Linked DNA regions of Homo sapiens. The protein of the gene in region 1 purifies or fractionates together with the protein of each later gene. This does not show direct contact. Each region holds a gene or a part of one and is shown on either strand. Other genes may lie near its edges.

The links. Proteins that work in one complex are often made in the same cells at the same time.
Region 2: the proteins of TMEM266 (region 1) and HM13 purify together in Homo sapiens (affinity purification with mass spectrometry; 2 studies listed by BioGRID and IntAct, with this or other methods). This does not show direct contact.
Region 3: the proteins of TMEM266 (region 1) and WDR20 purify together in Homo sapiens (affinity purification with mass spectrometry; 2 studies listed by BioGRID and IntAct, with this or other methods). This does not show direct contact.

What each region holds. Positions count from the first base shown.
Region 1 is NC_000015.10:76,062,966-76,069,984, reverse strand, and holds part of TMEM266 (transmembrane protein 266), read right to left. Parts: intron 1-7,019. UniProt on the Homo sapiens protein: Voltage-sensor protein present on the post-synaptic side of glutamatergic mossy fibers and granule cells in the cerebellum. Despite the presence of a voltage-sensor segment, does not form a functional ion channel and its precise role remains unclear.
Region 2 is NC_000020.11:31,509,927-31,517,454, reverse strand, and holds the start of HM13 (signal peptide peptidase), read right to left. Parts: upstream 3,014-7,528; 5' UTR 2,904-3,013; coding exon 2,721-2,903; intron 1-2,720. UniProt on the Homo sapiens protein: Catalyzes intramembrane proteolysis of signal peptides that have been removed from precursors of secretory and membrane proteins, resulting in the release of the fragment from the ER membrane into the cytoplasm.
Region 3 is NC_000014.9:102,135,105-102,142,909, reverse strand, and holds the start of WDR20 (WD repeat-containing protein 20), read right to left. Parts: upstream 3,014-7,805; 5' UTR 2,987-3,013; coding exon 2,738-2,986; coding exon of another isoform or gene 2,702-2,737; intron 1-2,701. Other genes in the region: HSP90AA1 (heat shock protein HSP 90-alpha), read left to right, coding at 3,506-3,660. UniProt on the Homo sapiens protein: Regulator of deubiquitinating complexes. Activates deubiquitinating activity of complexes containing USP12. Anchors at the base of the ubiquitin-contacting loop of USP12 and remotely modulates the catalytic center of the enzyme.

The DNA.
Region 1 (7,019 bases):
ATTCAATAAATATTCAATAAATGCAATAAAGGTTGTATAATATTCAATACATTCAATAAAAGTTGAGCTGAGAATGGTATTTACAGTTGTACAATATCTTATAGTTTATAAATTGTCATTACTGCTGAAGTTTCTCAGGGTAGGTTTCTTTTTTTTTTTTCTTTTCTGAGACAGAGCCTCACTCGGCTGCCCAGGCTGGAGTGCAGTGGCATGATCTTGGCTCACTGCAAAGTCCACCTCTCGGGTTCAAGCAATTCTCCTGCCTCAGCCTCCCGAGTAGCTGTGACTACAGGCGTGCACCACCATGTCCCGCTAATTTTTTGTATTTAGTAGAGATGGGGTTTCACCATGTTGACCAGGCTGATCTCGAACTCCTGACCTCAGATGATCCACCTGCCTTGGCCTCCCAAAATGCTGGGATTACAGGTGTGAGCCACCACACCCGGCCCACCAGGGTATGTTTCTGTTGCTTAACACCAGAGACTCTGGTTGGTACCTTGAGCTCTTAAGGTCTCCTCCAGCTCTGACAGTCTATCCTCTTTAAGAGGAACATTCCTCTTACTATGCAAACTCATATCAACCTCAGCTTTTACAACTCAACCAAAGAGAAGAGCAATCATCTCGCTTTGAGGTGGTTCATCACCAAACCAGGCCCTATCTCCTCCTGCTTTTTCTGTCCTTTGATCTATTCCTTAAAGCCAACAGCCAGCCCACCCATGAGTCGACCTAGCCTAGTGTGACCTCACAGAGCTACCTACTTGACTAGACTTACAATTTCCAGAGGCAGATAGATTCCTGCTAACTAGGCCGAATCTGAGTTCAGTATGACATGTTCGTACAATATTTTGTAGTTTGAAAACTTAAACTATCTTTTTTCTGCTATGTCACTGATCCTTGCAACAATCCTGAGATAAACAGGGCAAGCATAAGGACCCTGATGCTCACAGAAGTGATGTGCTGTAGGTTCTAGAGATGATAAATAAGATGACCATATGACGGGAGAAAGTGTGGGAAGGAGAATGTACACTGGGCTAGGAGTCACGAAGCACAGGCACTATGTTCCAGCCCTGCCACTCATTAGTAGCTTGACCTCTTGCAAGTCTACCTGTCTGGATCCAGTTTCTTCATCTGTACAACAAGGATGCTGGATGTATTAGTTAGTGCAGGCTGCCATAACAGAATATCATAGATTGGGTGGCTTAAACAACAGAAAGTTATTTTCTTACAGTTCTGGAAGGCTGGAAGTCCTGGATCAGGATGCCAGCATGGTCAAGTTCTGTAAGGGCTCTCTTCCTGGCTTGCAGACAGCCACCTTCTCACTGTGTCCTCACATGGAAGCAGGAGAGAGAGATAGTATCTTTCTTCCTCTTTTTATAAGGGTACAGTACTATCAGATTAGGGACCGACCCTTATGACATCATTTATCCTTTATTATCTCCTAAAGACCCTATCTCCTGATAAGTCACATTGGGGGTTAGGGCTTCAACATATACATATATTTTTTGGAGGGGAAACAACTCAGTCCACTGTATTGGATATGATCTTTGGAGTTCCTTCCACCTGTTAGCACAAGTCTGGAACACTGAAGATACAGTAGTCTATGGAATTAGTAATTCTACCTTGCCTCCTTTTGAGAAACTACACAAGGCTTATTTCTAGACTATTCGTAGGGAACATTTTGGAGATCATCTGTGTAAACACTTTCCCATCCCTAGGGCAATTAACAAGCCAAAGGTAATCTCTGGCCAAATCAGGTCTCTCCCAAAGTTGGGGCCTTAAAGTTTTTCAGAAAGCATGTATTTTAACTGTCACTTTTAGCCTTTGGGTATGGCATGCAATTTCTGCTACTGCATTTAGAAAGAACATAATGATGACTGTCAATTGGAGGTGGGTTTTAAATCACAAGTCTCCAGCTAAATTTTCTAAGAGCCATGAAGATTACTGAGCAATTGTGGCCTTTCAGCAAAGCACAAAGTACCTTGTCAGTCCTACTTTATGCAGCACCTGCGAGTGCTGTCTTAGAGTGGCTTTATGGTCAGAAGCAGGCTCTGGTGGGGAGAGCTGGCCCTTTGCAGGTCAAATATAATTCCCTCCAGTCATAATCAAATATTTCAGATTTCTCCAGAAATATTAATTATTTTTGGTTTGATATACTTATTGTCAAAGGCCGACAAGTACTTTGAGCACTTAAATTACAATGCCCCCCACAAAAAAATACCCCAAGGATGATTTTAACAGTCACAGGATGTGTTATTGCATACTTTAAGCTCTTAAATACAATGCCAAAAAAAAAAAAACCCAAGAATGACTTTTTCTTTTCTTTTCTTTTCTTTTCTTTTTTTTTTTTTTTTTGAGACGCAGCCTTGCTCTGTCACCCAGGCTGGAGTGCAATGGCGCAATCTCGGCTCATTGCAACCTCCGCCTCCAGGGTTCAAGTGATTCTCCTGCCTCAGCCTCCCGAGTACAGGCATGTGCCACCACACCAGTTAATTTTTTGTATTTTTAGTAGAGACGGGGTTTCTCCATGTTGGCCAGGCTGGTCTCAAACTCCTGACCTTAGGTGATCCGCCCTCCTTGGCCTCCCAAAGTGCTGAGATTATAGGCGTGAACCACCGCACCCAGCCCCAAGGATGATTTTAACAGTCCCAGAATGTGCTGTTGCATCTAGACCCGAGGCCTTCAGGAGTAAGAAGATGGTCTGCATTTCTGTAATTTGTTTACATCTCCTTATTTATGATATAATCTACAACTGCTTATAGAGTCTAAATTTTCCTTGTCTGTGTAATTTCAAACCCAAATTTACCTTTCATGTATATTATAACCCAATCTTCATCTTCATTTGACCCAAATTATCTAAGTTCTGTATTCTTCAAACTAGAAAGATGCTGAGTTTTCTGTATTGATCCTATGGAGAACGGTTCTCAAATGGGGGTGACTTTGCACCCTAGGGGACATTTGGCAATTTCTGGAGACATTTTTGGTTGTCACCACTGGGGACGGGGGGTAATCGCGGTAGTACCGGTGGCATCTAGTGGGTAAGGGTCACGGATGCTGCTAAATATCCTACAATGCACAGGACTGCCCCTGCAACAAAGAGTCACCTGGCCCCATGTGTCAACAGTGTTGAAGTTGAGAAACTCTGCTACAGAATGTCAAGATGCAAAGCATATGGTCCTTTGTGGCTTCCAGGGTTGTGGGGTGGGAAGCTGTTATACTGGCAGCACAGCTCTGGCACTCTTCATGACCCCAGGGACACACACAGCAGATGCCGATGAAAACTTAGGCTGTCTTTGCCAGGCCAACTCACAACGCCAATAAAGGGGTTAATTTTTTTTTTTTTTTTTAAGTAGGCAGCCCTTCCTTTGATTTTCATCCAACTTCAATGCCCTCTTCACCAGGGCAGGAAGGAGAAAGCAAGCAGGACTAGAACACAGTGGCTCCAGAGCAGGCCTATAGCAAGGTCTGAAGGGTTGATAGATTTGATACTCACAGCTTTACAGCTCATTTTATTCTGAGAGTAGAGAGTATAGAAAAAACTTCTAAACACTTCTTAAAAATTCTAACAGCTTTATAGGTTGGTAGGATTTCAAGCTACTTTTTAAAAGCATTAAATTATTCCCTGTGCTCTCATTATTTTAATTATTTCTATATATCCCTCCTCGTTCCAAGAAGGTTCTGACATGGGTAACTCTCCCTGTGGTGTTGACTTAATTATCCCGTATCAAGCTTACATGAGCTCCAGGACTGATCAATACAGGTTTCAATTTAGGAGGAAAAAGGATTTTGGAAGGGCCAAGTAAAACCATAATGTTTTGGCAGTTAAAAGATATGAGTTAAATTCCCACTATGTGTAAAGTTATAGTGCTAAATGCTGAGGAAGATATTTTTTAAAAGTATAAATCACAGCTGGTGCCCTTAAGTAATTCATACTCTGTCTGAGAGAGACAGGCTCCATGCCCAAGGGAGGCTGTCTTCTGCTACAAAGCAGGCTGTGCTTGGTGGCTCCTGGGCAGGGGCACCCCTCGGCATTCTTCCCTCCTCTGGCCAGGGAAGGAGGGGCAGAATAGGAAGAGGTGAGGGTGGTTGAGTGGGGAGTGCGCGGGACAAAGCCTCAGAAGTGGACGCACACTGGGGAGGGTCTGAGATATAAACAAACTAAACGAGAGCCAGATCTTAGAGGTCCTGATGGCTAGAGGGAGGCATTTGGGTTTTATTCTAAAGTTACAGGCATGTACACAGGAAGTTATATGATAAAAAAAAATAGCATTTGTTGGGTGCTTACCCTTTACTAAGCATACTATTTAATCCTCTGCCGTAGCTACTCTTCTCCCCATTTTACCGATGAGGACACTGAGGTACGAGGGTTAAATCACTTACTCAAAGCTACTCTAGCAAGTGCTAGAGCCAGGATTCACATCACAGGCAGAGCCCACACTCTTAACCACTTCAGACTGCCTCTTGATAGAACAGGAAGGATGACAGCAGAGGAGAGACCAGATAGACACGGACACCGCTAGGAAGGAGCTGCCGACAGACAGCATTTCAAAGAGTAGAGGAAGTCAATGGGGTCAGATGTTGCTGAGCCATCATGAACGAAATCTGAGAAACAGCCATTGGATTTATATTAGGCAATCACCGGTGACCTTTAAGAGTTCTGTTTCAGTAGAGGGGTGGGGGCAGGAGCTCCTTGCAGGGTATCAAGAAGGGCAGTGATAGAGCCTTGCATAGAAACTGACAGTTAAAAGACAGGGAGAAATGGGAGAGAAATTTCCAAGCTTTTCTTTTGAGACTGTGTCCCAAAACAATGGAACTTTTTCTTTGTTGAGGAATTGCAATATATTTCACCTTGTTCTTTTGTTTTGATGGGCAAAGCTAACAAATTTTAGGAGTCATGGTTAAAGGAGAATTAGTAACTGTCATAGAAATTGTTTTTTAAAAGCCCTGCATCAAATTCAGGTAAAGTACAAAGATTTGACTATTTCAAAGGAAACTGTCATGGGCAGAAGGTTAATTGGCCTTATGCATTGTATTGGCTGGAGAAAATGGCAATTGTGTAACCAGGGTGGGATGGTGTGAGGGAATTGTAGATAAAATAACTTGCTTCAGACCTGTTTTGAGCCAAGGGAAAGAAGCTGAAGCATTGCATGCATTACGGCTTGACAGTGAAATCTAGAGAACAGCTGCCTGGACTTCCAAAAACCTGGGCTGCAAAGGGCAAAAATACTTATTAAAATTCCTTGTTTTAATGAGTTCTGGGAATAGGAGTTATCAGCCTCTGTCCTAGCTACTAAGTAGTTTCTATTACAAATCAAAAGCAGTTTTAGGGAGGCTGTGTTTTTTGAAGGGGAAATCCTCTCCTGGCGGGTAATTCAGACTGCCTAGGGCAGCAATTAAAGCCATCCGGGAGGAGGAGAGGAGGCCTTTGTGGCTGAGGAGCAGTTTCTCCCAGGCTTCTTTCCATAACCATGAACTCCCTTTAGCATCCCAGTGTAGTCCATTCTAAAGTGTTCTGCAGATGAATCAGTCCTCAAAGTGCCTATGATTTTGCTACGGCCCAAGAACTACTGCAAACAATAGATGAATGAAAGATATATGTGGAGTCCTTCCTGGGACTGCTTACACCAAAGACATCTCAGGCTGTGATGCTTCTCAGACACATGGGGTAAGTGCTTTGGCAGTGAACTCTCAGACCCTGGCTCAAACAGGGATGACACCAACAGGTATTTAATGTTTAAAAAATGCAACAGGCTAATAATGCAGGCAGTGCAAGGATTCACCTGTCTGTGTAAAAAGCCAGTAGGAATGACCGTAGGCTCCTTTTCCTTTCTAGTGACTCAGGCCACTGGGAGAGTTGATGGATGGCTGAAGGAATCCAGAGTCTCCTTTGGAAGTTCTTCAAAAACATTATGCATTCCCATTACAAGGGAACCCACACAGATCTCTTCTCCATCCCAGGCCATCTCCCCACGTACCATTTGCTGCCTCGTCACACATCCCAACCCTCAGGTGACTTTTTCCCCATCTTTACAGGTTCCTCTCTTCCCAACACCGGCTCAAGAGTAAGCCAGATCTTTCCCGATTCTTCTCTACTTTCTTGCTGTTCCCCCAAACAACACATAAAGCTTTTGCATTTTAGAGGTTTCATTGCTCACTACAGAGAACAGTAAGGACTAACAAAAACAAAAAGTGTGGGAAGCTGGAAAGATTCAAGGATACCATAGTGATTTGTTGATTCTTTTTTCACAGTACCAGAGTTGGGGGAGTGAACAAAATACACAGAACCCCTGCCCTTTGGAGCATTCATTCCATGGGGGAGATGGGCAATACACTTAACAACTAATTAATATAGTAGGCTAGGAGGTGCTACGAATAAAAGCAAGACAGGGAGGAGGAAAGGATGCTGTGGGAGTGGGGATAGTTTTAAAGGAGTGGTTGGACTATGAGCAAAGCTGAAATGAGGCGAGGGACTATGAAGATACCTGTGGGAAGAGTATTCCAGGGGAGAGAACCATTAGTGCTAAGGGCCTGGGGCAGGGGGTACAGCAAGGAGGCCAGTGTGGATGGAGCAGAATAGGATGGGAGGCCAGAGAACTATGGGGCAGAAAGTGCTTCATCTTGCAGTCAGGGTGCAAAAGGCAATGAGCCCAGAGTTTGAGCTATGCTGACTTGGGCTCAAATCTTGGCTCTGCCCCTTAGGTCATATACCTTGGGCTCCCCCACTTCTTATCATATAAACAGTTGACCACAAAGGGTGGTCACTGCAATATGAGATGTGAAACTTCCTATCACAGGACACAGCACACGACAGCCATAGTAAGAAACAGAGACTGATGAAAATCAAGTATTTCAAAGTAATCTGTGAACTTTTGTGATTCAAGACTGTCGACAACTGAATAAAAATCTCATTTTAAAGAATACTAAATTAAGAAATACTTTAAGAAAAAACACATTTCATAATGAAGTAGCTTACAAGGTCGATCAAGGAAAAACAAATATCCCAGTTTTAGTGCCTTATTCAA
Region 2 (7,528 bases), on another chromosome or scaffold:
CACAGCAGGCACCCAGTCCTGTTCGCTGAGGGCCCTTTAAACCAATGTTTAATGTGCAGCTACTGCCTGGGTCATATTCGCTTCTGTCTGGGATATAGGACTCTGACAGTGATGGGTGCTGCTCTGAGACTGCTCCTCCCAAGGCTACTTCTTCACAACATACTCCTGGAGGCTCTACCTTCTTTCTCTCCATGATTTCACAATTTTCCCTGCCTGTTATGGACACCTTGACCCTTGGGGATTCTGTCCTCACATTCCCTCTCTCCCAACTGGTTTTGGGGTCCAACACTGGTGGGAAATCAAAACTGGGTCCCCACACTAACTCTTCTCTCTCCTTTTCACATGACCAGGGAAACGACTCAGGGTAGAAGGGGAGTCATTTGCCCTGTCCTTTCCCTAGGTCAATGCTGCTTGTCTTTAAAGGTACCTGTGTTAGGAGAGAGCCCTGGATGAGGACTAGGCATACCTGATTCTGCCCCTAAATGGCAGAGTGATCTTCAGAAGTCATTTCTTTGACTCTCAGTTTCTTTTCCTGTACAATGAGGATAATGAAACTGGCTCTGCCTGCCACCTCAGTTGCTGTGAGCATCAAAGGGCGTCAAGGTTTTGCAAGCTTTACCGCATCTGGGTCATTGGTGGTGGCAGGCTCTTAATGGTCAGGTCCTGTTTGTAAATTCATACAGTCCTCCACACCCTGCTGCCCTGCAGGAGATGCTTGGGAGAGGTATTCAGAGGCTAAGGCTTTCTCCTATCCATACCCTCTGTTCCAGCCACACCAAACCTTCCACTATTTCCTGAACTGCCTCGTAGCCTCCTGCCTCCGTACCTCTCTCTGCTTACCTGGTTTCTTTTGCTTAGAATGCCTTCTCCTGGCTGAAATTCTACCTCTACGTCAAGGCTCAGGCCTACCTCTAGCACAAAGCCTCCCTGCATTGTCCCAGATGTGCTCAATCTTTCTCCCTAAACCTTGTAGCATTGCTTGTAGTATAATCACAATCTAGTTATTATTCTTTCACCTACGCTCCCGAATTCCTTGGTGACAGGGCTCTGACCTACTCATCTTTGCAGCAATCCTCCCTTACCCCTGACAGTGGTGGAAGTTCAGGAAATACTGTTGCCTGGAAGGTGTTTTCTGCAGAGATTAGTGATCCATGTACAGAAGGTGCCAGGGAGAATTACTCAGTTTGGAGAGCAGCTCAGATCAAGCTGCCTAGCCTTATGCCAGCTGTCCTTCGCCTCCTCTGTCCTGGGTTATCTCAGAACTGCTCTCTACACTAAGTGTCTACCTGACAGGCATAGTAGAGAGGCTTAATATCACCTGAACTCAGCTTAGAAAAAGCCAAATAAAAAGGAAAATGGAGTCATGTTTGAGTCTCTCAGCCTAAGCCCCGCCTAACTACTTTCCTTTGCATCTGATCGCATACAGAGCCAGTAGTGAGTTCTCTGCTCCTGGGGAAGGAAGATGGCAGGCCTCAGCTACTGCTCAAGTTGGGTAGTGTTTTGAGAACCTCAGCTTCAGCAGTTTCAAAAGTGGCAGCTGCTTTGTGGGCCTGCCCTCTTTGGGCAAGACTTCCACTTAGGTCCATCCTCAGGTCTGGGTGGGGGAGGAGCATCGGGAAGGTGCAGATTAAGAGGTTGTGGAGGAAGGGAGAGGGTGCCAGGAAGTGAAAAGTCATTGGTACAACGGGCTAGAAAGGGCTTAATATAGGGAAGAAGTGGGGCAGGGAAGGGGGAGGGAGAAGCAGAAGGTGAAATGTGCTGGAGTCCTCCTAGTTATCCAATAGGACAGATGTTGAGGAAGGCCAGGGATGGAGTCTGGCCCAGTCTCACAAGAGGGGCCAACAGTGGCCCAGCAGACAGGCCCAGTTTGGTGGGGGGATTGTCTTGGGGGTATGGGGAGAAGGGCTACTTTGAGATAGGGTCAAAGGCTGGGTGGGAAAAGGGTTACAGGTTAGGAACAAGGTCTAGGTTTTGACTAGGCCATGTCCAAGGTTGGATGGTAGTTAAGAGAGGAAACCAGGAAAATAAGACGTCCATGCCTAGTTGGAAAGTAGAGGCACCAAGATGCCAGCTTCTGAGGAGCCAGCTGACTGGGATGGTTCCAGAAAGTGATGTGAAAAACTGGGCTCTAAGAGATCATTGTTTTTGAGGCAGGGGCAAGGGCCAGGTGTGGGGGATCTAGGTGAGCACATAAGGTGCCATAGATTCCAGTGAGACAGGAGTCAGAGTCTAGGGATGGGTCTGGATGGTAGAAAGGGCCCTGCGGTGGGCTGAGGCAGGGTTCCTAACAGGGAATGACACGAAATTGTACCATTCAGTAAGTTGTGAGGACCAGTATCCATCAGGTATACATGATGGGGCTGATCTGCCTGGGCCCAACAGGCTCAGAACAATCAGTGCCCGAGTCGCAGTGGGGGACGGGCTGACAGCGTTCCCAGCCGCGGCATGATGCACAGGGAGGGAAGTGTCAGGGTCCGGGTCGGGAGCAGAAGCAAGTTCCTATTGGGGAAGGTATCATACCCTGGTCGGGGGTCGGTGCCCAGATCCCGGGGTAGGAAATGCCAGCCCCGGAATGTGGGCCCGAGACAGAGGGAACGGTGGTGATCAGGGCTGGGAAGAGTCAGTGTCCGGGGAGAGGTGTCTGTCCCGCCTAGGAAGGGTCCATGTCGGCCGTGTTCGGTATGGGGGTGGAAAGTGCCCGGTTTTCCCGCTGACCCTACCTTGCCGCGGGCGCAGCGTACGGAGCGCAGGGCGCCGAAGAAGATGGGCAGCAGCGCCATGAGCAGGAGGCTGCCGTAGGCCAGCGCGATGCCCTCGGGCGTGGAAGGCGGCCGCGTAGTGCTGTTGGTGGGGCCGCCTGCCTCGGCACTGCCGTTATGCGGATCGCTGAGGGCCGAGTCCATGGCGAGGGTGCGTTCGGGATCCGACTCCAGCTCCGGTTGCTGCAGCAGGGACGCAGGCGGAGACACCGGCTCTGCAGGGAAAGCCACGTTCCCCTAAGGCAACAGGAAGTGACGTGCTCCCTCCCAAGCCCGCGCCGCGCACGCGCGCACACACGCTTGCACGCACGCGCGCGCGCGTGCACGTCTCCCCGCCCGCTCGCCCTCTAGCGGTGGCCGAGGGCCGGGCGGCGGGTTGCTAAGCAACTTGTTAGCGGTCCGGACAGGGGCTCTGGGCCACTGCGGTGGGCATGCGACCCGAATGCCCATTTCCCAGTCCCAGCCGGTCTCCTCAATCCCCTGCTGTCCACTCTCCGCAAATCCTCATATTCCGAATAACTAAGAATGTGTTTATTCATACATGCATTTATTGGGTATCCAATTGTTTATTCACTCCTTAAATATTTATTGAATGTCCCTCAATATGCCAACAACTGACCTAGGCTCTGGGGACACTGAGGTGAACAATACAGGCAAAAGTTCCTCCTTGCCTTCGTGAAGTTTGCATTTTAGTGCAGTGTGTGTGGGGGGACGTTGGGAAGACAATAAAGAAACTGAACAAAATAAAAGTCTGTAAAATGGGCTGGGCGCAGTGGCTCACGCCTGTAATCCCAGCACTCTAGGAGGCCGAGGCGGGTGGATCACCTGACGTCACGAGTTCGAGACCAGCCTGACCAATATGGTGAAACCCCGTCTGCACTAAAAATACAAACAATTAGCCGGGCGTGGTGGCACGCACCTGTAATCCCAGCTACTCGGGAGGCTGAGGCAGGAGAATCGCCTGAACCCGGGAGGCGGAGGTTGCAGTGAGCCAAGACTGAGCCATTGCACTCCAGCCTGGGCAACAAGAGCGAAACTCCGTCTGAAAAAAAAAAAAAAAAAAAAAAAAAAAAAGGCCAGGCGCGGTGGCTCACGCCTGTAATCCCAGCACTTTGGGAGGCCGAGGTGGGCAGATTGCGAGGTCAGGAGATCGAGACCATCCTGGCTAACACGGTGAAACCCCGTCTGTACTAAAAATATAAAAAATTAGCCGGGCGTGGTGGCGGGCGCCTACAATCCCAGCTACTTGGGAGGCTGAGGCAGGAGACTGGCTTGAACCTGGGAGGCGGAGGTTGCAGTGAGCCCACTGCACTCCAGCCTGGGCGACAGAGTGAGACTCTGTCTCAAAAAAAAAAAAAAAAAAAACAAGAAAAATTTGTAATTTGTAAAACGTTAATGTATAGTTATGTGTTACATAGCATGTTAATGCAGATAAATAGAGAAAAATAAAGCAAAAGAAAGTAAGGTGTGTGTGGAGTTTGCAAATGTATTGAGAGCCTACTATGTGCCAGGCAATTATAATACCTTACGAGTTCATGCCCCTGTACAATTTATAAAGCTTTGTGGCTCTTTTCAGAATTTGAAGAATCTGTTTATTTATGTGATTCTTATTTTTGATATTGTTAAAAAAGTTAAAAATATATATTTTCTTAGACATGGGGTTTTGCCATGTTGGCCAGGCTGGTCTCAAACTCCTAGGTTCAAGTGATCCTCCTGCCTCAGCCTCCTAAAGTGTTGGGATTACAGGTATGAGCCACTGCTTGCAGCCTACTGTGGCTATATTAGATACTGGAACATCTAAGCATCACTGTGTGACTGTGCAAACAAAAAACTTCAAGGAGGGCCTATTATTATTATTATTATTATTATTATTTTGAGACAGGGTCTCACTCTGTCACCCAGGCTGGAGTGCAGTGGCATGATCACAGCTCACTGCAGCCTCTACCTTCTGGGCTTGGGTGATTCTCCCACCTCAGCCTCCCCAGTAGCTGGGACCACAGGTGTGTGCCACCACGCCCGGCTAACTTTTTGTGTTTTTAGTAGAGATGGGGTTTCGGCATGTTGCCCAGGCTGGTCTCAAACTCCTGGGCTCAAGCAATCTGCCCACTTCGGCCTCCCAAAGTTCTGCAATTATAGGCATGAGCTGCCACCTCCCGCAAGAGTGCCTATTTTATTTTATTTTATTTATTTTTTATTTTTTTTTTTGAGATGGAGTCTTGCTATGTCACCCAGGCTGGAGTGCAGTGGCACGATTTCGGCTCACTGCAACCTCCAGCTTCCGGGTTCACGCCATTCTCCTGCCTCAGCCTCCCGAGTAGCTAGGACTACACGCACCCGCCACCACGCTCGGCTAATTTTTGGTATTTTTAGTAGAGTCAGGGTTTCACCGTGTTAGCCAGGATGGTCTCGATCTCCTGACCTCGTGATCCGCCCGCCTCGGCCTCCCAAAGTGCTGGGATTACAGGCATGAGCCACCGCGCCCGGCCAAGAGTGCCTATTTTAAAAAAGATTTCTATGTGTTGAGGCAGTTGTTTACTGCAGAATTAAGCCCACTTTAGGCTTACTACCAGCTTCTATCTAAAAATATTGACTGATAACCGAAAGTGTTCTAAAGGTGGTTATTCTGATCTATAGTTTTTTTGTTTGTTGTGAGACTGAGTTTTGCTCTTTTTGCTCAGGCTGGAGTGCAATGGCGCAATCTCGGCTCACCACAACCTCTGCCTCCCTGGTTCAAGCGATTCTCCTGCCTCAGCCTCCCGAGTAGCTGGGATTACAGGCATGCGTCACCACGCCCAGTTAATTTTGTATTTTCAGTAGAGATGGGGTTTCTCCATGTTGGTCAGGCTGGTCTCGAACGCCTGACCTCAGTGATCCACTCGCCTCGGCCTCCCAAAGTGCTAGGATTACAGGCGTGAACCACTGCGCCTAGCCTCTGATCTATAGTTTTTTAAAAAAGTATTTACAGAAAGTATAGAAGTTTTTGTGAATTTAATACAAGTTAGCCTCCAATTTTCTCTTCTCAAATGTTTGATTTATAGTTTTTGCTCCTTTACATATTTGCTTTTTTAATTTCAAGATTTGTAATTTTACCTTCAAAACAGTTCATTTTTAAAATTGTAAAGCATGTTTAACATACGCAGAAATAGGCTGGGTATGGTGGTTCACGCCTGTAATCCCAGCATGCTGGGAGGCCGAGGTGGGTGGATCGTGTGAGCCCAGGAGTTAGAGACCAGCCCGGGCAACATAGCAAGACCACATCTAAAAAATAAATAAATAAATAAAAAAAAGTCAGTATTTTGAAATTATTTGAGCTCAATGCAGTTCTACTCTTTGGAAGCAGATTAGCTAACTGAATCTGGTGCTCTTGTTGAATAGAAATAGGTGATGGGAAATGTCTATCATTTGACTTTATAAGGATAAGCAAGATTTACCATGATGCTTTGATTTGGGGGTGGATTCCAGTCCATCATTGCCCTGGCACATGTCAATTAGTACACACAAAATTCAATGTCAAATCCAGAGCCTCAGAGGAAAAAATTTATTCCCCAAGAGAACAATGATAACATAACAAAGTAAAATGTTATCTAGATTATATTGGTATTAAAATTATCTCTTATATAAAGTATATTGACTGTAACTATACATAGAAGATTCATAGTAACACCTGGAAGTTCCTTCTCATGTTATATATAAATTGAATTATGAAAGCTTTTTATATTACCTGTTTATGGCCTTATAGATTTAATGTACCAAATGAAAACTTCCCACTCTACCTCTAGATAAGATAAAATCTATATTTATTTTCAAGGTAGAGTTTTAAGTGGCCATATTTCTTAAGCCGTATTCAAAGGAAAATTTTATTTCAAGGCACATTTTCACTCTGTCACCCAGGCTGGAACACAATGGCATGATCACAGCTCACTGCAGCCTTGACCTCCTGGGCTCAAGCGACCCTCCCACTTCAGCCTCCCGAGTAGCTGGGACTATAGGCATATACCACCATGCCCAGCTAATTTTTCCATTTTTTATAGAGATGGGGTTTCACCATGTTGCCCAGGCTGGTCTTGAATTCCTGGGCTCAAGCGATCTGCTCACCTTGGCCTCCCAAAGTGCTGGGATTACAGGCATGACTACCATGCCTGGCCACTCAAGGAAATTGTGTCTTAACTAAGTTTGAATGCTGTTCCTCTTCATTTTGTATATGAAACTTCAGCTGATTTAATATTGACATTCATCATCTAGTCAAACCCTTCACATGTTCTTCAAACCAACCAAATTTGGGGTTCTTGACATTTTCTGTGTCAATAAAATTAGATGTGGATCTTATCTTTTTTTTTGAGATGGCGTTTTGTTCTGTCACCCAGGCTGGAGTGCAGTAGTGTGATCTTGGCTCACTGCAACCTCTGTGTCCCGGGCTCAAGCAATTTTCCTGCCTCAGCCTCCTGAGTAGCTGGGACAACAGGCACCCGCCATCACGCCCGGCTAATTTTTGTGTTTTTAGTAGAGATGGGGTTTCACCATGTTGGTCAGGCTGGTCTCAAACTCCTGACCTCGTGATCTGCCCGTCTCGGCCTTCCAAAGTGCTGGGATTACAGGCGTGAGCCACCACGCCCAACCAAGATGTGGATCTTATATTTTATTTTGAGATGGAGTCTCGTTCTTTCGCCCAGGCTGGAGTGCAGTGGCATGATCTCAGCTCACTGCAAGTTCCGCCTCCCGGGTTCATGCCATTCTCCTGCCTCAGCCTCCCAAGTAGCTGGGACTACAGG
Region 3 (7,805 bases), on another chromosome or scaffold:
ACCTATTTTCTACTCATTTTACACACAGACTTAAGTTGAATTTACTCATCTAAATTAGATCTTCTGAATAATCCAAATAATTATTGTAAAATTTTACACGCCTCAAAGGACCAAAAAAAAAAAAAAAAAAAAAAAGTCAAAACAGCCAACTGTGCGCTGGGCATGGTGGGTCACACCTATAATCTCAGCACTTTAGCAGGCTGAGGTGGGAGGATCGCTTGAGGCCAGGAGTTCAAGACCAGCCTGGGCAACACGGCAAGACCTCCATCTCTAAAAAACATTTTTTTTTTTAATTAGCCAGGGTGGTGCACACCTGTAGTTCCAGCCACTAGGAAGGCTGAAGTGGGAAGATCATTTGAGCCCAGGAGTTTGAGGCTGTAGTGAACGATGAGCACGCCACCGCACTCCAGCCTAGGCAACAGGATGAGATCCTGTCTCTAAAAACAAAAACAAAAACATGTTTAATAGCCAACTGTCAAAAATATGTTTGTAACTACTAACTCTAAAAAGTAAATTTTGGTTTTCCAATTAAGGAAAATGTATTTCCTATATTTTAAATCAGAAAATAGTCATAAAAAGTCACTTATACTCAGAAATAACAACAAATAAATGCCAACTCATTCATGGAAAAAAATGTTTAAGTTACAATTAAAAGAGAGTAGAAACATCTGCAACACAATGCAAATGTATCTACAAGATACTACCACATGAAAATGAAATTTTACCCAAAAAGCGTTAAAACACTCAAATTATGCAGGTAAGGGCAATTTACGTATTTCACATTTATCTTGTTTAAAATAATTTTTTGGTGTGGTTTTAAAAACCTTGCCTCCTTTTACCCTTCAGGGAATAGCGTCCCACTAAAAGAGAACACTATTGTAATGATACTTCCAGGCAAGAAACCTGTCTTTATGATGTAAAACAGGGCTACCAGATCCAGATAAGGTCTGCCATTAGGATGCTTCAGAAGTCATAACATTTCAAAGAAAAAAAAATTTTTAAGTAATTCCTACATTAATAATTGCTAGTTAGTGAATTTAGTTTTTAAGCACATCGTATTTTTATATAAATATAAATTTTTATAACTTAAAATTCTAAACTTAATTTCCTGAGACAAAATTGGTCCTTTCACTCTGATTATCAATGTCAAGACAGCAGCTTCTTATTTGACAGTCAGTATTTAACTATATTTTACATCTACTGAGTGTTTCAGGGCCTTAAAGTTCATTATGATTATTATATTATTAATTACAACGTGCACTGTAACATTCCCTTTTTAAAGAGGTGCAAATAGAAGTTAAATAACTTATCCAAGGTCACCCAAACAAGTCAGTGACAAAGTTGGGAGTAGGAGTAAAACTTCAGCCCCTAGACTGAAGACTACTTCGAGCTTTTGCAATTCCAAACGAGGAAAAAAAAAAGGTCAAGCGATTTACCCTTAATAACTTCCAACAGCATACCCTAAATACAGTGGTACACTTATTATCATAAAGACTAAGAAAAAAAGATTCACCCTGAATCAAAGAAACAACTTTGCTACATTTAGATACCACTGTCATTTCCCTAGCTCTTGTAACAAGCGAAAATCCTGTACTGGATCTGGCTATATTAAATCCTGAAGAATGTTCACTCTTCAATATGAACAATTTATTTTCATGCTAACATGCATTTACGACTTAATCTTTTATCACCTTGTCCTATTTGGAGGTGCTGTGGGATGCATTAATTTCCTCACTCTTCCATGACATCAAGTCAAAGACTACAATCTCAAAAATAAGCAATTCTCAGTGAAAACATAGTTACATAGCCAATGAAAGAAAAACTCTAATAAATGGCTGCTTTTAAAGAGATACTTTTAAAGGATGCTTACATGTTTCACAGAATTACCGGTAACTCGCCCGCCAAGAAGGATGGTCCCTTTAAAGCAGCTTTTAAAGCATATCACTCCCTGTTTGGGACACAGTCTGACTTGTTGGACAAGATTAATCTGGGCACTCTCACACAACCCCTCTGAACCAGCTTAGTTCACTGGAAACATCATTTCAACTGTAGTACTCAGCCCTTCGCATACTACAAGGGACAAGATGACTCTCCTTAACAATCTTTCAGAAGGTCCCCACGGCGGAGACAGTGACAGCCGTCCTCCCGCGGATGTTTTTGGAAATAGAAATGTTAACACCAGGAGAGGCTCCTAGGAAGTGTCAGTGCGGCAGCAGGTGGAGTAGCCCTGCGTGCCGAGCAGGTTCTTTCTGACCTAGTCTCAATGCTCCGCTTCCCGGCCCCGGTTCCGCCTTACAGAGATCTTGTTAAGCCGTCTTGCGTCCCTGTTCTCTAACCCAGGGCGAGACTTCCAACCCTCCAGGGAGGCGAGGCAATCGAAGCAGACAAGACGGCCACCTCACCTCTTCCGGGGACTCGCAGGCCCGCTCCCTGGCCATGTCAGAGCCTGATGGACCAGGCTGGAGGGGACGCAGCCGGCTCCCCCGGGAGCCTCCCAGCCAGAACCCCCGCGCCCCACGGTCCCTTTCCACTGCCCCCACCCCTTCGAAACGCCACCGCCACCACCCTCCTTACTCCTGAATCCCCTCTCCTCAGGAGTACCCCAGTGGAGTTACCGGCCCACTCAAAAGTAAGAGCGACGGCCACCCCTCTCGGTCACCCTGGCCCCACTGTCACCGCCCTGCTCCCGGCCTCTGCCTACGCCGCTGGCTGGCTCCGGTGACGCCCGGGTCGGTACCTTGCGGACCCCCTTGTAGATATAGAAGTACAGCTCCCGGCCCACATTGAAGCAGAGGCGGTCGCCGTTGCCAGACTGGTCGTTGAGGTTTACGAAGGAGACGCGGACAGGGTTGGATCCCTGCGAGTTGAAGGGCACCCGGTTGGGCCGGCTGTACTCCGAGTGCGGCAGCAGCTTGTACAGACCTTCCCGGGTGGTGAATTGGGTCTTAATCTCGTTCATCTCCTTCCCTCCTCCCTCCGTCGCCATCTTGGAAAGCAGCGTTCATCCTGCCCTAAGTGCCCGGATCACGCCCACCGCGCAGGCGCTGTTCCTGGTGCTCCCTCTTCCCCCACCCCCTGCCTCTTCCTTCTCGCCCCTCCCACCCGCGGGCCAGCCCTGCGAGGGCGGGCCAAAGGGAAGGGGTGGGCTTGTTTACGGCCCGACTGCGCAGGCGTGCTCACCTGGCGTGCTCCACCCGACTGGGCGTCCGCAGGCTCCTCCCCCGGGTGTGGCCTCCGGGCGGCATGGCTGCTTCCCAGGTGATGCCGGCTTCAGCTAGTGGGGTCTAGTTGACCGTTCCGCAGCCGCCAGGGCCAGCGGAAAGCCGGTCAGGGGGAACCGCGGCGGGGCTGGTGTCATGAGCCTGAGGTGAACTTGAGGGTGCCTCCTCAGCGGTCTCCCGCCCTGCCCTGAGGGGCGCCGGGACCCCAAAGAGCGGAGGAAGAGCGCCACCCCGACGGCCACCGCTTCGGAGCCAGCACGCGGGGTACCCTACGGGGAGCGCGGATGCCCCCGTGTTCGGGCGGGGACGGCTCCACCCCTCCTGGGCCCTCCCTTCGGGACAGGGACTGTCCCGCCCAGAGTGCTGAATACCCGCGCGACCGTCTGGATCCCCGCCCAGGAAGCCCCTCTGAAGCCTCCTCGCCGCCGTTTCTGAGAAGGTACCAAGGGACTCAAGATTTACGCTTCACTATGTTTTATTTCAGGCGGGGTAGGGGGAGAGAAGAATGTGGTACAGCATAGGTGTTCTCAAGCCAGATATCCTAATTCCTGCGTGTGATGAGCACTGGCGGCCTCCGCTTCTTAGCGGAGGTTTGTCCTCTCCAGCTGTTCAGAAACACGGGGCGGGGAAGCGCTTTGGGAACCGGGGACTGAATCTTTTTAGGATTCACTGATCTTGCTCAGTAGGTTACGAAGAGCTCTTAATAAAATTTAAGGTAATTGTTTTTTTTTCCAGAAGCCTCAGGTGGAGTCTGTGAGATTATTTACTAGTAGATCCATAGGGATAGTTGTATGCATGTAATGTACAGGGTCTAGATTTATAAGGACGGGCACACGTGTCAAAGTAAGATTCAACAATCACTATTTTATACCTGGGTTTCTTGGCATGTTACACCAGAATAAGAAAGCTTCTAAAGTGACAGAAACATTCTAATAGAATTCCAGGGAGGGGGGAAGCCAACATTTGTAACACCAAGAATGATCTATTCCTGGAAGTTCAGATTATATCTGGAGGGGCACAAAAGAAGTGAATGGAGAGAATTTCTAAAGTAGGAGGAGTGTAAATCATAAACATCTTCCGTATTAAAAAGCAAGTAGATACCAATAGAAACTGTGCCAATGATGTAGTAATACATTTGATAATAACATCTTTAGCCTTTGTAGTGTTGGAAAAAAAAAAGAAAAAAAAGCACTGAAGTACTTCTTAATTAATAGAGCCTGAAAAATACTTAAAATTTTTTCTTAGAATTGTTTTGATGTTATCCGACTTTCCCTAATCTTAAAACACCAGGGTATGTTCTGTCGTTACCATGGCTATATCCCAAACTCCATAACTGTGTTATTTTACATTGAAAACACGTATTTTACAATAATCAACTTGAAGGATAGTGGCATCTTGAATCATCTAAAAATAATTTATCTGTGTTTCCTAATTATCAAGAGGAAAAAAAGTATAATTTTTGGGGGGGGAAAAAAACCCAGCGAGCAAAAGTTAAAACAAAATTTTGTATTATTCTTCAATTAACCATAACATTGTATTTCCCATAATACCTATATAATTCAAGCATTCTATCAAGATTTTACCCTATATAAATTCAACATTTTATTATAATCACAGTAATAAACTGTTCACTTTGTCTCATGCATAGCCTTTGGTTTAGTTTTGTTTTTTTTTTCTTAGATGGAGTCTCGCTGTCGCCATGCTGGAGTGCAGTGGTGCAATCTTGGCTCACTGCAACCTCTGCCTCCCAGGTTCAAGCGATTCTCCTGCTTCAGCCTCCCGAGTAGCTGGGACTACAGATGTGCACCACCACGCCCAGCTAATTTTTGTATTTTTAGTAGAGATGGGGTTTCACCATGTTGGCCAGGATGGTCTTGATCTCTTGACCTGCTGATCCACCCACCTTGGCCTCCCAAAGTGCTGGTATTACAGGCATGAGCCACAGTGCCCAGTCCCATGCATAGCCTTTGAATAGTCTCTATTTTTATTCTTTTTATCTCATAACTTTTCCTCCATATTCAAAGATTCAATAAGCAACACCCAAATCTAAATAACTAGGCCTGAATGGCTGGGCGTGTTGGCTCACACCTGTAATCCCATCACTTTGGGAGGCCGAGGCGGGCAGATCACGAGGTCAGGAGTTTGAGACCGCCTGGCCAACATGGTGAAATCCCATCTCTACTAAAAGTACAAAAATTAGCCAGGCGTGGTGACACATGCCTGTAATCCCAGCTGCTCGGGAGGCTGAGGCAAGAGAATTGCTTGAACCCGGGAGGTGGAGGTTGCAATGAGCCGAGATGGCACCACTGCACTCCAGCCTGGGCAACAGAGCGAGACTCCATCTCAGGAAATAAATAAATAAATAGATAAATAAATAAATGGGCCTGACCTAATTTTATTTCTGATTTTCAATTTCAAACCGGGAATTTAAAAAAAAATTTTTTTTTTGAGATGGAGTCTCACTCTGTTGCCCAGGCTGGAGTGCAGTGGCACAGTCTCAGCTCTCCGCAGGCTGGAGTGCAGTGGCACAGTCTCAGCTCTCCGCCTCCCAAGTTCAAGCAATTCTCCTGCCCCAGTCTCCCGAATAGCTGGGATTACAGGCGCATGCCACCACACCCAGCTAATTTTTGTATTTTTAGTAGAGACGGGGTTTCACCACGTTGGCCAGGCTGGTCTCGAACTCCTGACCTCAGGTGATCCACCCACCTCAGCTTCCCAGAGTGCTAGGATTACAGGCGTGAGCCACCGCGCCCGGCCTCAAACCAGGTATTTCTTTTTTTTTTGTTTCCTTTTTTTTTTTTAAGAGAAGTCTCGCTCTTGTCCCCCAGGCTTGAGTGCAATGGCTCAATCTCGACTCACTGCAACCTCTGCCTCCCGGATTCAAACGATTCTCCTGCCTCTGCCTCCCAAATAGCTGGGATTAAGGCACCTGCCACCACACCTGGCTAATTTTTGTATTTTTTAGTAGAGACAGATTTTAACCATGTTGGCCAGGCTGGTCTTGAACTCCTGACCTCAGGTGATCCACCAGCCTCGGCCTCCGGAAGTGCTGGGATTATAGGCGTGAGCCACCGCGCCCGGCCCAAACCGGGTATTTCTTTTTTTTTTTTTTTTTTTTTTTGAGACGAGTCTCACTCTGTCGCCCAGGCTGGAGTGCAGTGGCATGATCTCGGCTCACCGTAACCTCTGCCTCCCGGGTTCAAGCGAGTCTTCTGCCTCAGCCTCCCGAGTAGCTGGGACTACAGGCATGTGCCACCAGGCCTGGCCAATTTTTTTGTATTTTTAGCAGAGACGGGGTTTCGCCATGTTGGTCAGGCTGGTCTCGAACTCCTGACCTCGTGATCCGCCCACCTTGCCCTCCCAAAATGCTGGGATTACAAGCGTGAGCCACCGCGCCCGGCCCAAACCGGGTATTTCTAAATAAATTCATCAGTTTCTAAACCTTATGAATTATTTTTTCATTTCAAACTTGAATCATTATGATGGTTTTGTGCATTAATTCCTTCTAAACAACTACCAAAATAATTTTCTAAAAACAGTGCTTTAGACATTACATATTCTTTTGTCCAAAAACTTTCAATTATTTGAAATACCCACACAATTTAAGTCATACTGAGAGGTTACAACGTGCTGGCAGTCCTCAGAGCCCTGGCTTGCTCTCGGCGCCTCCCCTGCCTGGGCTCCCACTTTGGTGGCATTTGAGGAGCCCTTCAGCCCCCCACTGCACTGTGGGAGCCCCTTTCTGGGCTGGCCAAGGCTGGAGCCCACTCCCTCAGCTTGCAGGGAGGTGTGCAGGGAGAGGCGAGAGCGGGAACCGGGGCTGCGTGCGGCTCTTGCGGGCCAGCTGGAGTTCCGGGTGGGCGTGGGCTTGGCGGGCCCCGCACTTGGAGTAGCCAGCCAGCCCTGCTGGCCCCGGGCAATGAGGGACTTAGCACCCGGGCCAGTGGCTGCGGAGGTGTACTGGGTCCCCCAGCAGTGCCGGCCCACCGGCGCTGTGCTCGATTTCTCGCCGGGCCTTAGCTGCCTTCCCGCGGGGCAGGGCTCCGGGACCTGCAGCCCCCATGCCTGAGCCTCCCACCCACTCCATTGGTTCCTGTGCGGCCGGAGCCTCCCCGACGAGCACCACCTCCTGCTCCACGGCGCCCAGTCCCATCGACCACCCAAGGGCTGAGGAATGCGAGCGCACGGCGCAGGACTGGCAGGCAGCTCCACCTGCAGCCCCGGTGCGGGATCCACTAGGTGAAGGCAGCTGGGCTCACACCAATCAGCACCCTGTGTTTAGCTCAAGGTTTGTGAGTGCACCAATCCACACTCTGTATCTAGCTACTCTGGTGGGGCCTTGGAGAACCTTTATGTCTAGCTCAGGGATTGTAAATACACCAGTCGGCACTCTGTATCTAGCTCAAGGTTTGTAAACACACCAATCAGCACCCTGTGTTTAGCTCAAGGTTTGTGAGTGCACCAATCCACACTCTGTATCTAGCTGCTCTGGTGGGGCCTTGGAGAACTTTTATGTCTAGCTCAGGGATTGTAAATACACCAATCGGCACTCTGTATCTAGCTCAAGGTTTGTAAACACACCAA